Linked DNA regions of Homo sapiens. The protein of the gene in region 1 purifies or fractionates together with the protein of each later gene. This does not show direct contact. Each region holds a gene or a part of one and is shown in the gene's direction. Other genes may lie near its edges.

Region 1 (5,407 bases):
AAATACTGTATATAGGTTTTGGCACTATGTGCCATTTCAGACATCCACTGTGGGCCTTGGAACATATTCCCTGAGGATAAGGAGGGACTACTGTATATAAATTAAAGATCAGTTGTTGGTTGACTTTAACCACTAAATAGATGAGATTACTGTCACAACACAGGCAACTCTAAGCAATGTTATGAAAAGATGTACAAATAGGAGATCTTAATGTGTGATTGACTAAATTAGATCAGTATTGAGTGTCTCTTTCAGAGGACATAGACAAAAAGGGTAAGCCCAGAGGAGAGACTGGGATGATGAGGATGAGATCCTACTTGACTATCAGCTTCAGCAAGAGCCTTAAATATTAAGAGACATACCTGAAGGCCGTGATATAAAAGAAAAGCCTCTCTCCCACCTCTAGAGGAAAGAACTGGACCGATTTTAGGGAAATGCATTTGATCTTAAATTTCATCACAGCCAGAACTATAAAATATGAATGTATTAGTCGATGAATTTTCTCATTTAGAGAGATGATCCTACATGACTCTGGGGGTACAATAGAGAGGACTGTATGTGTATAGGTAGGAAGCTGAGCTAAGCTTCTGAAATCACTTACTTTCAAGCTCAACATACTTTGATAATCATTTATAGTGACTCACAATCAATTCCCTTTAAGACTTTCAAAGTCACAAATTGAAACAATGCTCATAATGAATTAAGCCAGTCTGTATGTGTGAACCAGGGTGAGCAGAGACATGAAGTAAGCAACAGTAAGATTTCACCTAATGAGGTTGAGACTTAAATAAAAGGGCATGATATTGGGGAGGAATAGAAAGGACCTAGTCTATAGCTAGGGAGTAATGGACTACGGGGGTTGATGGAAGGAGGTAATGATCAACCGATTTATCAAGACCAAATTCAAATGGAAATTCTGATAATCCTAGTCATCTTATGTAATTTTCTCATTTGAAGTCACAACATGGACTAACACTTTCTTTTTTTTTCTTTCCAAATGTGATAGGAAAGCAAAGATATCCTGTTAGTGGATCTAAACTCTGAAATCGACACCAATCAGAATTCTTTAAGAGAAAATCCATTCTTAACAAACGGCATCACCTCCTGTTCTCTTCCTCGACCAACGCCTCAGGCATCCTTCTTGCCTGAAAATGCCTTTTCTGCCAATCTCAACTTCTTTCCCACCCCTAATCCTGATCCTTTCCGTGACGATCCTTTCACACAGCCAGACCAATCGACACCTTCTTCGTTTGATTCTCTCAAATCTCCAGATCAGAAGAAAGAGAATTCGAGTAGCTCGTCTACTCCGCTGAGTAATGGGCCCCTGAATGGTGATGTTGACTACTTTGGTCAGCAATTTGACCAGATCTCTAACCGGACTGGCAAACAGGAAGCTCAGGCAGGCCCATGGCCCTTTTCAAGTTCGCAAACCCAGCCAGCAGTGAGAACTCAAAATGGGGTATCTGAAAGAGAACAGAACGGCTTCTCTGTCAAATCCTCCCCGAACCCTTTTGTGGGAAGCCCTCCCAAAGGACTGTCCATACAGAATGGCGTAAAGCAGGACTTGGAAAGCTCTGTCCAGTCCTCACCACATGACTCCATAGCCATTATCCCACCTCCACAAAGTACCAAACCAGGAAGAGGCAGAAGGACTGCTAAGGTGAATTGTCTTCTCCACATATCCATTAGCAGAGTGCATGTTCGGTACCAAAGGGTGGTGTGATGCAAGCTCTCTTTCCTGCTGCTCTCGTAGTTTCCTGTGTTGCTGTGAAATAGAAGGTGGGATAAGGCACTTTGGTTCTCCAGGAGTACTTTCCTCTAACTGCCACCGTTTTTAAGCTTCTCAGCAGTGTTTTTCACACCCTGCTTTCCGTGTGCATGTCTTGTCACTTATGATTAAACTAAACACAAGTTTTTCCATTTTTAATGCTGCTATGCTTCTATACCTCTGGTAAGTTTGATCATCGTGTTCTGGGTTGGGAGGGTGAGAGTTCTTGTGATTCCCTTTGTACTTCCCTGACACTAACACATGCCCTGCACACCCATCATGTTGCATCAGTGTCCATGGTGGTGGTATAAAATTCTCGAGCTTATCTCCTCTTTTAAATACTGAGTAAATACATAAGCTTTTTCTAAGCTTATGTATTTACTATTACCACTATGATCTCAGCTTTATTTAAGAGCAATTTAAAATGCAGTTCCCATAGGTGTCTTTTTTTACCTCTCCTAAGAATATACAGGCTTGCCTGGATTAAGACCCTATGATCTCTATGTAGACTGACTTAAAATCCAATGGAATGAACAAAAATATTTAGGATGCTTATTGGTAGTTGCCCCTTTTACACACTTGCTCCCCCAACTTCAAGCATTTAGCGATGAGACCAGACCAATGTGAGTGTGTAAAGGAATATAGTAGATTTCACTTTGCAAGTCCTAGGTAGTGTCAGACACTAAGACTCAGTAGTCCGTCCGTTGTAGGAATCTGTGTCTTTTTTTGGAGGACTCTTTTTCTGTAGTAGTAGTTGTTGTTGTTCATCTGTCAAGAAAAAAGTTTTCCTTTTTGTGGCTCTCAAATTGGGGTATAGGGTAGGAGACAAAATGAGGCTGTATTTCACTGTTAGTGAGTAACTAAGGCTTCTCCCTCCCTCCCTGTCCTGTCAGTCTTCAGCCAATGACTTGCTTGCATCAGACATCTTTGCTCCTCCCGTCTCAGAACCTTCAGGCCAGGCGTCACCCACAGGACAACCTACAGCCCTGCAGCCCAACCCTCTGGATCTCTTCAAAACAAGTGCTCCTGCCCCAGTGGGGCCCCTGGTGGGTCTAGGTAGGTGCCTAGAGATAAAATTAAGTATGACTCTTTTGCTTTTGCTCATAAAATGATGATGCATCGGAAGAGATTTCATACTCCCAGAGGGTTTTACAGCATAAGATTTGAGCATCCCAGGGAGCCCTTCTCCCACTTCTACTATACAACCCCACATCCATTTGATATTCTTGACTTGTAACTCACATTTGGCTCCTCGAGGCAGCATGAGACAAGAAATTCATTTTCAGTATTGTACTTACTTGAACCAACTGGTCATGGTTTCCTGAAAGACAATTGTAAGGGATTCTAAACTCAGACCAGCTTCAGTAGCAAAACAGGGTTGACATAAGAGAGGCTTGTCTGTCAACATGCATGTCTTCCATGTCTTTTGCCATAATAGATCGAAGGCCTATGTCCTTTCAACACATAGCCCTCTTAGAAGGAATATATGCCCAAGAAGGATGTAAGTTAAGTCTGAAGCAAGAATAAGTCATAGAGTGAAAGTCCTAGGTTCTGGGCCCAGCTGTGTTCCTAGGTGTATGGTAAGGGTAGATCAGGCACACATCCTGATCAGTCTCTGAGCACTTCTGCCATAGGAGCTCCTTGCCAATATTTTGGCTAGCTTGAGTGTTTTACTGAAGCTAGAACATAAGTCCTAGAAAGCCAAAGTTGAAAAAAGAGAGAAATAAGGGAAGAGATGGAATTTTATCAGACAGCTAGTATGCATTGACGCTCTTAATTCCTAAATGTGTCATTAGCTTGTGTGAGCCGCTGATCACTCTGTGGTAGGACAGTGGGAAAGTCCACTTGACTGAGGGCTGGCCTTGCTATTCTTAGTCCATAGCCTATAGTTCTTTTCAGACTCCATGGTACAGTTTTCAGAAACCCTGACAATAGTTTTTGCTGTCCTGCTATGGACTCTATTTTTCTTCTCTTGGCACCTCTACAAACTCCAAATGGACTCTGGCTTGGGAGGTGGAGGACTGTAGACGAGGAAGGACTCTCCTCTCCTTCGGTAAAATCTGACCAGGGATCCTGGCTTTCTCTGCCTCCTGCAGTCAGTCATCAGGATCCTTGTTTTGTTTTCCTCTCTGTCTCTGTTGTTTTCCTACAAAGGAAAATAGTTTGGTTCTTTTACAAGAAATCTGTTTAATCATATCTAGAATAGGGTGGCCAGAGGAGGACTGTTACTCAACTGCTGAGTGGCAGAAATCCGTGAGGGTATGAAAAGCCAGCTTGTCCCAGGTCTCTGCTCGCATTTACCCCATCAAGAGGCTCTCTCTAAAGACTTCATGTCTCTTGGGGGCTTCCCCCTTTCTGCGTTGCTCTTTTCCTTGCACCCCCAAGTGGAGCTGGTTGGTACCCTTCCCTCACAGAAGACCAGAGTGCTTGCAATGCAATGTCTGCAGCGAGATCACATCACAGAGCTTTTTATCTGATATCAATGCCCTTAAGAATTTTTGCAGCCAATATTTAACAAGTCAGCCTGAAAATACAGCTGGACCCTATAACTGTTTATTTATTCAGACGAAGTGAAGCTTTTTGGCTAGGTGCCCCTGTTGAGGGCTTGGGGTATACAACTGCAGAATACTGATGATTGTTCCAAGTTTGGACATGGGACTCAAACTGAGCTCTACAGTATAGTCCCTGTCCACTAGCAGGGATCCTCAGCCAAACCATGGAAGGTTGTAGGTCTGGCTTCCGCTAGACCCAGCTGGGGGACTGTCTCCCCTGGAGAACTGGGGGGGTGGGGAGAGGGTATTGTAGAAAGCTGAGCCCTCAGATTCAACTTGCTTGTATTTTAATCTAGCCTCAGAAGGTAATAAAATTAATGTTCTATACCCATGTCCCCTTTTTCCTTATTCCTTGCCCCTACTTTGTCAATGTGTTCAATGTGTTCAATGTGTTAAAACACAATGTGGGGATTTGGTGGGTAGGAATGAAGACTGGTATAAGTATATACTGGGAAAGCCTTGAATTCCTGGCAAATGTAATATTTTTCTCTCCTTTTTTTTTTTTTTTTTTTTTGAGACAGAGTCTCACTCTGTCACCCAGGCTGGAGTGCAGTGGTGCTGTCTCAGCTCACTGCAACCTCTGCCTCCCAAGTTTAAGTGCCTCAGCCTCTCTAGTAGCTGGGATTACAGGCATGCGCCACCACACCCAGCTAATTTTTGTATGTTAGTAGAGACAGGGTTTCGCCACGTTGGCCAGGTTGGTTCTGAACTCCTGGCCTCAAGTGGTCCTCCCACTTTGGCTTCCCAAAGTGCTGGGATTACAGGTGTAAGCCACTGCGCCCAGCCCTAATATTTTTCTCTTTTACAAATACCATTCTCACTAATATGATATTTTCCTAAATGAAGACAAGTTGTCCAACATGAAAGATGATAAAATTCTACCCTCCTTTTTGCACAGCTAACTGGTGGAAATTATTAGCAAGTGATCTGGCTTCTGTTAATACAATTTAATTGAATGTGTTTTAAAATACAAGCAACAACTTTGTTCAAACTAAACCCATTTTTAGAGCCTGTATTGTAGAATATAACTTTTCTCTTGATTTGTTATGAAAGGAGTATATTCTTCAGTGAAAATGAAGTCTAATTT
Region 2 (2,594 bases), on another chromosome or scaffold:
TCCCAGCACTTTGGGAGGCCAAAGTGGGCAGATCACCTGAGGTCAGGAGTTCGAGACCAGCTTGGCCAACATGGTGAAACCCTGTCTCTACTAAAAATACAAAAATTAGCCAGGGCTGGTAGCACGCACCTGTAATCCCAGCTACTCAGGAGGCTGAGGCAGAAGAATCACTTGAACCTGGGAGGCGGAGGTTGCAGTGAGCCACGTTCGCACCATTGCACTCCAGCCTGGGCAACAGAGTGAGACTCTGTCTCTTAGAAAAAAAAAAAAAAGGGAAACAAGGCACAGGTAGTCTTCTCCAAAGAAACGCCAGGATTCTCCAAGGCATTCTGAGTAAAACTCCAAGGGTGAGAACACCTGAATTTACTGTTTAGGTCTGAACGGCTACTTGATGCTGAGTTGCCAGGTAGCTGAGCAAGCTGCAGGAGGTGGGCAGAATGGCACTGGGCCTCAGTCGTGACCATGAGCCAGTCTGATAACTGCCATACATTCAAGGTAGTACATTCAGGCTGTATTTCGGACCTCTGGATCCGTGCAATGATATGTACATATCTACTTTTCTCCTTGTGATAAAATCACACATACTGCTAATGGCACTGTGGTTCCTTGATGACATTCATAACAGAAGGAATGCTGAATTTCAATTAGAGGTTAGTAATAAAGATGCATATTTTTCCCCTGCCTGAGTCCACAGACTCACTGAATGCTATCCACAGATCCCTCTGGGTCTATGGACCCCAGGATAAAACTGCTGTGTTAAACGTTAACTGGACAAAATCCTCTGACTCCACTGAAATTTATATATACAATAATCTGGGATCTTGAATTGCAAAGCACTCAAGTTAAAAAGAAATTTACATTCAAGATGTTATTTGCTTATCTAACAGCCAGGTTTGGTAGTTAATTGTTTCCACCTCATACCTGAGGAAAGTGAGAGTGAGAGGCCTCTCATCACCAAAGGTCACCAAGTCAGAGAGGAGCACAGATGGGGCTTGGTCACAGCTCTGACAACAAGGCCTGACATTGGCTCCTACACGCAAGTGGCCAGGCTGCTGTCTCACCAGGTCTCAGAGTAAACGTGATTGCAGGTCGATTCCTGAAACCTCTGGCTGGTGACTAAGGCAAGCCTGCTCCTCAGCTGGACAGCTGCCCTGGATGAGCTCTCCTTGCCCTGTGGATTCACTTGCATCCCTATCTCCTCCTGAGCTTCTCCACACTGCTAAGGCAGGAGTTTGAGGGCATTGGAAGGGAAAACCTTCTGACCTAGACTTTGGCTCCTGAAATGATACTACAACAGTAGACTCCCCCTTGCCCTAGGCCCACCTCCACCCCCACTCTTCTCCTCCGGCTTTTCCCTCTCCTATTTTTCCCTCCCTTACCCATTCCCCAAAATAACAATGAATTCCCCCTCCCACCTTCTCCTCACCAGGTTAAAACTTACCTCATTAGCAGCATCCCTCTACAAGGTGCATTTAACTATAAGTATACTGCCTGCCTATGTGACGACAATCCAAAAACCTTCTACTGGGACTTTTACACCAACAGTAAGTACAGAAGTTGTCCAAGGAGGGAACTACCCACCAGCCACCAGGGAGGAGAAACTATAAACAGAAACATGGCTGCGAACCGAGCAGGACCAGGACCTCAGGGCAGAAGGACAGAAGGGAGGGAGGGAAGAGCATGGGGAGAGCAGATGGGGAAAGCACCCAGGTTCTAAGACAGAGGCATTGAGTGCAAAAAGTTGATACAGGAGACAAATTTGCAAAGGATTTGGGGAAACTGAACCCCAGGGGGCAGATGCCTGATATGAGTAGAAAAGACAGGACATGGCCGGGGTGTCTGAGAGATGATCTCCGTCCCTGTCTTTTTCAGGAACTGTGCAAATTGCAGCCGTCGTTGATGTTATTCGGGAATTAGGCATCTGCCCTGATGATGCTGCTGTAATCCCCATCAAAAACAACCGGTTTTATACTATTGAAATCCTAAAGGTAGAATAATGGAAGCCCTGTCTGTTTGCCACACCCAGGTGATTTCCTCTAAAGAAACTTGGCTGGAATTTCTGCTGTGGTCTATAAAATAAACTTCTTAACATGCTTCTCCATGTTCTGTTGTATCTCCAAAATCTGCTCCTGAAGAACCCCAGATTACCTGAAATTTCTAGAACATTTGTCTTTCAAAGAACCTTTACTGAGGAGATTGTACGGGTTCTCACTGCCCATTGGTATGAAGAGGGAGAGAAGAAGAAACTGGGAAGAGGAGCTATGCTCACAGAGAGGAAAAGCAGTGGCCCTAAAGTTCACGGCACAGGAGTGGCAGAGCCAGGGCAGGCACCAAGCCTCCCTGTTGCTTGACCTCTCTCCATCCCACTGCCCTCCAGCAACAGCTCAGATCCCAGAAGACAGGAGTCCTGTTGCATGCAGCAGAGTCAGGGATGGAGTCCATGGCCCCCTAAATGAGCAGTAGCATTCTATGCTATTCTGTTGCTTGTTTTCAATGGATTGTGACACTCAGGGATATCAGGGTCCTGTGCAGCTCTGCCTGAGGAGCTCAGGCATAATAGAGGAGTAAAGGGGCAGAGGGAGCCCTGAGGGGCT
Region 3 (2,643 bases), on another chromosome or scaffold:
CTAGGATCTTATTTTAATATTAAACATATAAAGAGACTACATTTCAGCCGGGCGCGGTGGCTCACGCCTGTAATCCCAGCACTTTGGGAGGCCGAGGCGGGTGGATCATGAGGTCAGGAGATCGAGACCATCCTGGCTAACAAGGTGAAACCCCGTCTCTACTAAAAATACAAAAAATTAGCCGGGCGCGGTGGCGGGCGCCTGTAGTCCCAGCTACTCGGGAGGCTGAGGCAGGAGAATGGCGTGAACCCGGGAAGCGGAGCTTGCAGTGAGCCGAGATTGCGCCATTGCAGTCCGCAGTCCGGCCTGGGCGACAGAGCGAGACTCCGTCTCAAAAAAAAGAAACTACATTTCTAAAGTGAAGTATACTTTTAAAATATGAATAAGCTCTCCCTTAGTTGTCTTGACAAATTTAAATTGTTTTCTTGAAGCAGAGCTGTTGTTAGATATTTCTTCATTTTTATATACTTTGAAACATAACTTGGCCTTTGCATCTTTTTCAGGATGTTCTTGAGGAGAGAATTTCCCTGGAAGTTCAACTGGAACAACTTCGACCATTCTCTCACCTATAAGCCAATTGCCGTTAACTGTGAACATACTTGTTTTTAAGTGGTTTTGGGTTCAAAGCCAATTTGGAGACCTAGACATTCAGCTCACTGCTTAACTCAACATTAAATTTTATGATTCTGTTTTGCCCTATATGTTCACCGTTGTATTTAAGTATCTTTTATTTTTTAATTTCGACAATAAAAAGGTCAGGATGGCGTTTTCTGGAGGGTAGATTGTGTTTGTTGGCACACCCACCTTTTCTGTTCCCTAGCATCTGGGATATGCAATGCTTCTATGGCTAATACCACACACCAATTTAATTTATAGAATGGGCTCCTCATTTACATCTCAGTCACAGACTCAGAAATAAATTGTCAGTTTGTCCTTTTATGTTTAATATTTTACATAAAGCATCTATTCTATAAAAATCTTTAGAAAGAGTTTCCCATTTAATTTTGATTTTAAAGAATTATATTGGATAAGGTGGTTTTCACCATAAGCTAATTTACTCTCTGCAGCCGTCTACATTCTTCACAAATCATGTGGTACATTGAAGCCTCTTTTACATGTCAACTTGTGACAAATACAAACATGTGAGATTTTATATTTTCCTTGTGGAAATGTGATCAACTTCATCAGCGACTTCGAACTATTTTATGAGATTCAATAATTCAGCAGTCATGTAAACTTATGAAATAGGTATGAGTAATGGCCTTTCTTAATTTTTTTAAGTATTGTTTTAAAACTTCTGAGGATATCAGTTATTCCCAGAATAAAGGGAAATTCCTTAGGATTTCTAGTTTACCTTTAGCCATCTTGTCACTCATTCTTTTGCTATACAGACAAGTTTTTCCTATTAATGAGTTTCTGGAGTATGCCTTATTCAGGACAATATGCTGTTTTAGATTTTGTTTAATATTAAATGATATATACATTTCGATCCATTGCTAACAGCAGATATTCCCTTTAAGATTTATTCTGTCTATAGGATCATAGATTTTAAACTGCATGGATATATCTTGGCAGAATCAGAAGTGTGGTTTTACACCAATAAAACAGCATAATATTTTAACTTTTGTTCATCTTTTTAACAAGATTTAAAGTTTTAAGAAATAGAAGATTTTGTATTTTCATTTCTGAAAGAAAAAATGTTTAAATACTATAGATTCACAGTCCTAAACTGCACCGATAGACTTTGTTACTGTAAACAAGAATTTGAAGAACAAGGGAAACTGACAACCTCAAGCTTCCAAGATTAATACAATTTTTACCTGACAATATCTAGGTAAAAATATACATCAGCTGAAGTTTCCAAGTGGCTTTCAGTATGGCTTTAGTTGTTAAATAATAAATTTAAAGCATTAAAGGCCCAGGAAACTACTCAACACCTGTTTTTCTGAGTGTCTTTGTTTTCAAAGAAACATTTTTACTCAGCTGTATTTCATTACAAGCAAGTTTTGCTGTTTCCATTTAGTTTTGTTTTTTAAAATATGCTTTTTAAAAATAGCCTTCTAATTTAACAATGTCAAAAATATTTGTTAAAGCTTCTTAGAATTTAGCCTTCCAATAAATAACACTTAAAAATTATAGAAAACTTTTTAGTACTTTGTAGTGGTATATCTTTAATGCTCTCTAGAGGAGTACATTCATACTAAGGATAAGTGTGACAAGTTTTTGAGTAAATTGCCATTTGTATTTCTTGTCCTTTTTTTTTTCTTTTTTTTTTGAGACAGAGGTTCGCTCTTGTCACCCAGGCTGAAGTGCAATGGAGCCATCTCAGCTTACTACAACCTCCGACTCCCGGGTACAAGTGATTCTTCTCCTGCCTCAGCGTCGCAAGTAGCAGGGACTACAGGCGTGTGCCACCATGCCTGGCTAATTTTGTATTTTTAGTAGAGACGGGGTTTCTCCATGTTGGTGAGGCTGGTCTCAAACTCCTGACCTCAGGTAATCTGCCACCTCAGCCTCCCAAAGTGCTGGGATTACAGGCGTGAGTCATCATGCCCAGCCCTCTTATCCATATTTTAAATCAATAATTGTTTCATGAAAATGTTAAAAATGGTAAATCACCAACAAATTAAAATATCTTTCTAG
Region 4 (3,512 bases), on another chromosome or scaffold:
TTGTCTTATAATTGTCTTTTTCCTTATGTCAGATGTTCTATGTCATAAGAATAAAATGGTTCACACCAATACAAGTACTTAGTTGTGGAAAGGGAGAGTAGAAGATAAAAATGGAGATTTTCCTGTGCTACAGGCTTAGTCAAGCTTATGGTCTATTTAATGGTTATCAAAGGCAATTAAATAGTGTTGAGTGTTCTGCTTTTACCTACATTTCATTTTTCATGTACTTAGTTACAAATTGAACCCTCTTCTATTTTTTTCCTGCTCCTGTTTCTGTTTCATTTTAGTTTTCCTTTTCCCTGATTATCATTTAGGCATGTAAGTGACACCCAGTAGCATTGCTTTAATTCTGCTGGTGACAGTGCCAAAGCTTTACTATACTCTTTTTGTTGTCTGTTGCTTTTCTCTTGCTAATTTGCTTGACTAGATAACTAAGAATTCAGGTAAGCATTAGCTCTTTGTTCACTGAGAATAATACAACTTGCAAGATAATTAATTTGGATTGTTCTACATGTATTTCGTTTATTTCTCTTTACCTTGTTCATTTATTACGACATTTTGAATTATTTACATACCCATATTTCTTCTTTCTTTTATGGCTCAGCTCACTATGCTTTTTTTTAATACTGGTAGCTTCCTCAAGGTTGGAAAACAAGATCTGAATACTATAGAAAATAATAACTATTTTTCTGTGGTCATATTAAAGATATAATGGCTTTGGATTTTGGGGTGATTTTTCTACTGTCAGTTTAAAAAAAACTTGTCTATTTGCATTTGTGTGTTATTACTTCTAGTTAAGAGTATTTCCAAGGAAAGTTTCATGTTACTTATTTTGTTTCCATGTCTTTTTCCAAAAGAACTTATTTTTTATATTATAATAAATATCAGTGGAAAAGTAGGTTTCGTTATATAGAAATTAACTTTAGGCTGGGTGCAGTGGCTCAAGCCTATATTTGGGAGGCCGAGGCAGGAGGATTGCTTGAACTCAGGAGTTCGAAACTAGCGTGGGCAATGTAGCGAGACCTGGTCTCTACAAAAAAAAAAAAAAAAAGAAAAAAAAGAAAAGAAATAAAGGAAACCCCCTTTTTTTGTTTTTTTGTTTTTTTTTGAGATGAAGTCTTGCTCTGTCGCCCAGGCTGGAGTGCAATGGCACGATCTTGGCTCACTACAACCTCCGCCTCCCAGGTTCAAGCGATTCTCCTGCCTCAGCCTCCTGAGTAACTGGGATTACAGGCGTGTGCCACCATGCCTGGCTAATTTTTGTATGTTTAGTAGAGACAGGGCTTCATCATGTTGGCTAGGCTGGTCTCGAACTCCTGACCTCAAGTGATCCACCTGCCTCGGCCTCCCAAGTGCTGGGATTACAGGTGTGAGCCACCACTCCCGGCAAGAAATTCACTTTTTAGACCTGTTCAAGAATACATCTATTGCATAAAGTGGAAAAAGATTTGTACTGAAATCCTTGGCCTTTTTCCATCAGATTTTTAAAACAAAAAGTTGAATTTGTATTCAAGTCTATTTTAGTAGTATTTTGACTTTTGTATAATCTAGAGCATTATTTCTGTATCTCAGGAAGCTGAATATGGTGGGCATGATCAGATAGATTTGTATGACGATGTCATATCTCCATCTGCAAATAATGGAGATGCCCCAGAAGACCGAGATTACATGGATACTCTCCCACCAACTGTTGGTGATGATGTGGGTAAAGGAGCAGCACCAAATGTTGTCTATACATATACTGGAAAGAGAATTGCATTATATATTGGAAATCTAACATGGGTAAGTGAAGTTAATATAAGAATTAAATTATTGGTAATTGATTTTGAACTGCTCTAGTAATTAATGTTTTTCTCCAGATTTTTATAAGTTTGAAGTTACTGTGTTTTTCTATATGTGTTTGCTTGTCCAATGAGGAGGGAAATACAAATATCTTTGCAACATCGTTAATTCGAATTCTTCTAGTTTTGAGTTTTGTGGTCATTCAACTTTTCTTGGTGGAGATACTAGTTAAATATAGTTAAATTAGTTTTGTCTTCAGTTACCTTTTTTATGCTACCACTTTACCTTGCTTCCGATAGCCCAGTTTCACTAAAAATAATGCTCACATGGGGTCTCAAACCAGGATTCAAGTGTAAAAGGAAAGAGACATAGTATCACTCCTGGTTTAAAAATAGTGTCCATTATTTAATTTGTGTTACAAATTTGAGTTTTATTTCTGCCCTTAAATTTGAAATCTGATTTATAGAAGCACTTCTGTGCGTATTATATTTTAATTTGGGTTGTCATGAGACTAAGATTATTGATTTAGAGCTTCATTAAATGCACATATGTATATTTATTTTTTATTAATATTACATCTTAAGTATCATTAAAATAGTCCTATAGAATGTTTGTATTTCTACTTAGTTATATGTATACTTGAAAGTTAAAAACTTGTATATGCAAAAATCAATAAAACTTGGCACCCTTGCATTTCCTTAATAACACTGTATTTTTAAACGTTTTATTTACATTTCTTTTTTTCAGGGGGAGACAGAATTTGCAAAACTCTGTCACCCAGGCTGGAGTGCAGTGGTGTAATCATAGCTCACTGAAGCCTCAAACTCCTGGGCTGAAGTGATTCTCCTGTGTCAGCCTCCAAGTAGCTAGGACCACAGGCATGTGTCACTCTGCCTGGCTAATTAAAAACAAAACAAACACTTTTGTAGAGCTGACTTCTTGCTATATTGCTTCAGGCTGGCCTCAAATTCCTGGCCTCAAGTGATCCTCCTAACCAAGCTCTCAAAGTGCTAGGATTATGGTGCCCAGCCTATTTACATTTCTTTTAAAACTAAATGTAACAGATCTCCCACCACCCAGTCTGAGTATTCTATAAAATTGGAGACAGTAGCAGTGTAGTTATGAAAGTATGGTTGCTAAGTAAGTATTTGGATCTTAGCTCCACCATCTATTATTAGTTTTGTGACCTTGTTAAAGAGTTAAAGCTCTTTAACTTCTATTGTATCATGTGTAAAATGGGTATAATAATAGTGCTTATATGGTTGTTATAAGAGTTAGTTGATACATAAAGTATATGGTAGATATTAAATACATGTTAGTTTTTTCTTATCTGCATTTTAATTCAAAAACAAGATGAAATTCAAAATACTTTCCTTTAATGGGAGGAAGTGAAATTGGTTTTATTCACAATTTAAAATCATAGCAGTTTAAAGCTGTAAGGGACCAGAAACTCTTGAGAGTCAAATCTTATTGTAACCCCAAGGGTATATACCTTCTAGTTTCTGAAATACTTATCAGGGAATGAAGTTAGGTTCCCAGATGGTTTTTGTGCTGTTTAAAAATTGGAGTCTGACTGGCCATAACTAGACTTAGATTTGCACTCAGCATTTATTTTCTCTTTTATGTCTCAAATTTCCCCTTAAAAACTAGACTGGGATAATAAAAATCTTGGTTTTATTTTAATGGTTAATGAGGGGGAAAATATCTTGCAGTGGACAACAGATGAAGAC

Evidence for each region. Proteins that work in one complex are often made in the same cells at the same time.
Region 2: the proteins of DAB2 (region 1) and PIP purify together in Homo sapiens (co-immunoprecipitation; one large-scale study listed by IntAct). This does not show direct contact.
Region 3: the proteins of DAB2 (region 1) and REPS1 purify together in Homo sapiens (affinity purification with mass spectrometry; one large-scale study listed by BioGRID and IntAct). This does not show direct contact.
Region 4: the proteins of DAB2 (region 1) and CPSF6 purify together in Homo sapiens (affinity purification with mass spectrometry, with the first as the bait; one study listed by BioGRID). This does not show direct contact.

What each region holds. Positions count from the first base shown.
Region 1 is NC_000005.10:39,378,871-39,384,277, reverse strand, and holds part of DAB2 (disabled homolog 2), read left to right. Parts: intron 1-1,006; coding exon 1,007-1,660; intron 1,661-2,661; coding exon 2,662-2,824; intron 2,825-5,407. UniProt on the Homo sapiens protein: Adapter protein that functions as a clathrin-associated sorting protein (CLASP) required for clathrin-mediated endocytosis of selected cargo proteins.
Region 2 is NC_000007.14:143,137,646-143,140,239, forward strand, and holds the end of PIP (prolactin-inducible protein precursor), read left to right. Parts: intron 1-1,429; coding exon 1,430-1,544; intron 1,545-1,872; coding exon 1,873-1,997; 3' UTR 1,998-2,094; downstream 2,095-2,594.
Region 3 is NC_000006.12:138,902,993-138,905,635, reverse strand, and holds the end of REPS1 (ralBP1-associated Eps domain-containing protein 1), read left to right. Parts: intron 1-503; coding exon 504-572; coding exon of another isoform or gene 573-609; 3' UTR 610-2,143; downstream 2,144-2,643. UniProt on the Homo sapiens protein: May coordinate the cellular actions of activated EGF receptors and Ral-GTPases.
Region 4 is NC_000012.12:69,249,557-69,253,068, forward strand, and holds part of CPSF6 (cleavage and polyadenylation specificity factor subunit 6), read left to right. Parts: intron 1-1,572; coding exon 1,573-1,782; intron 1,783-3,494; coding exon 3,495-3,512. UniProt on the Homo sapiens protein: Component of the cleavage factor Im (CFIm) complex that functions as an activator of the pre-mRNA 3'-end cleavage and polyadenylation processing required for the maturation of pre-mRNA into functional mRNAs.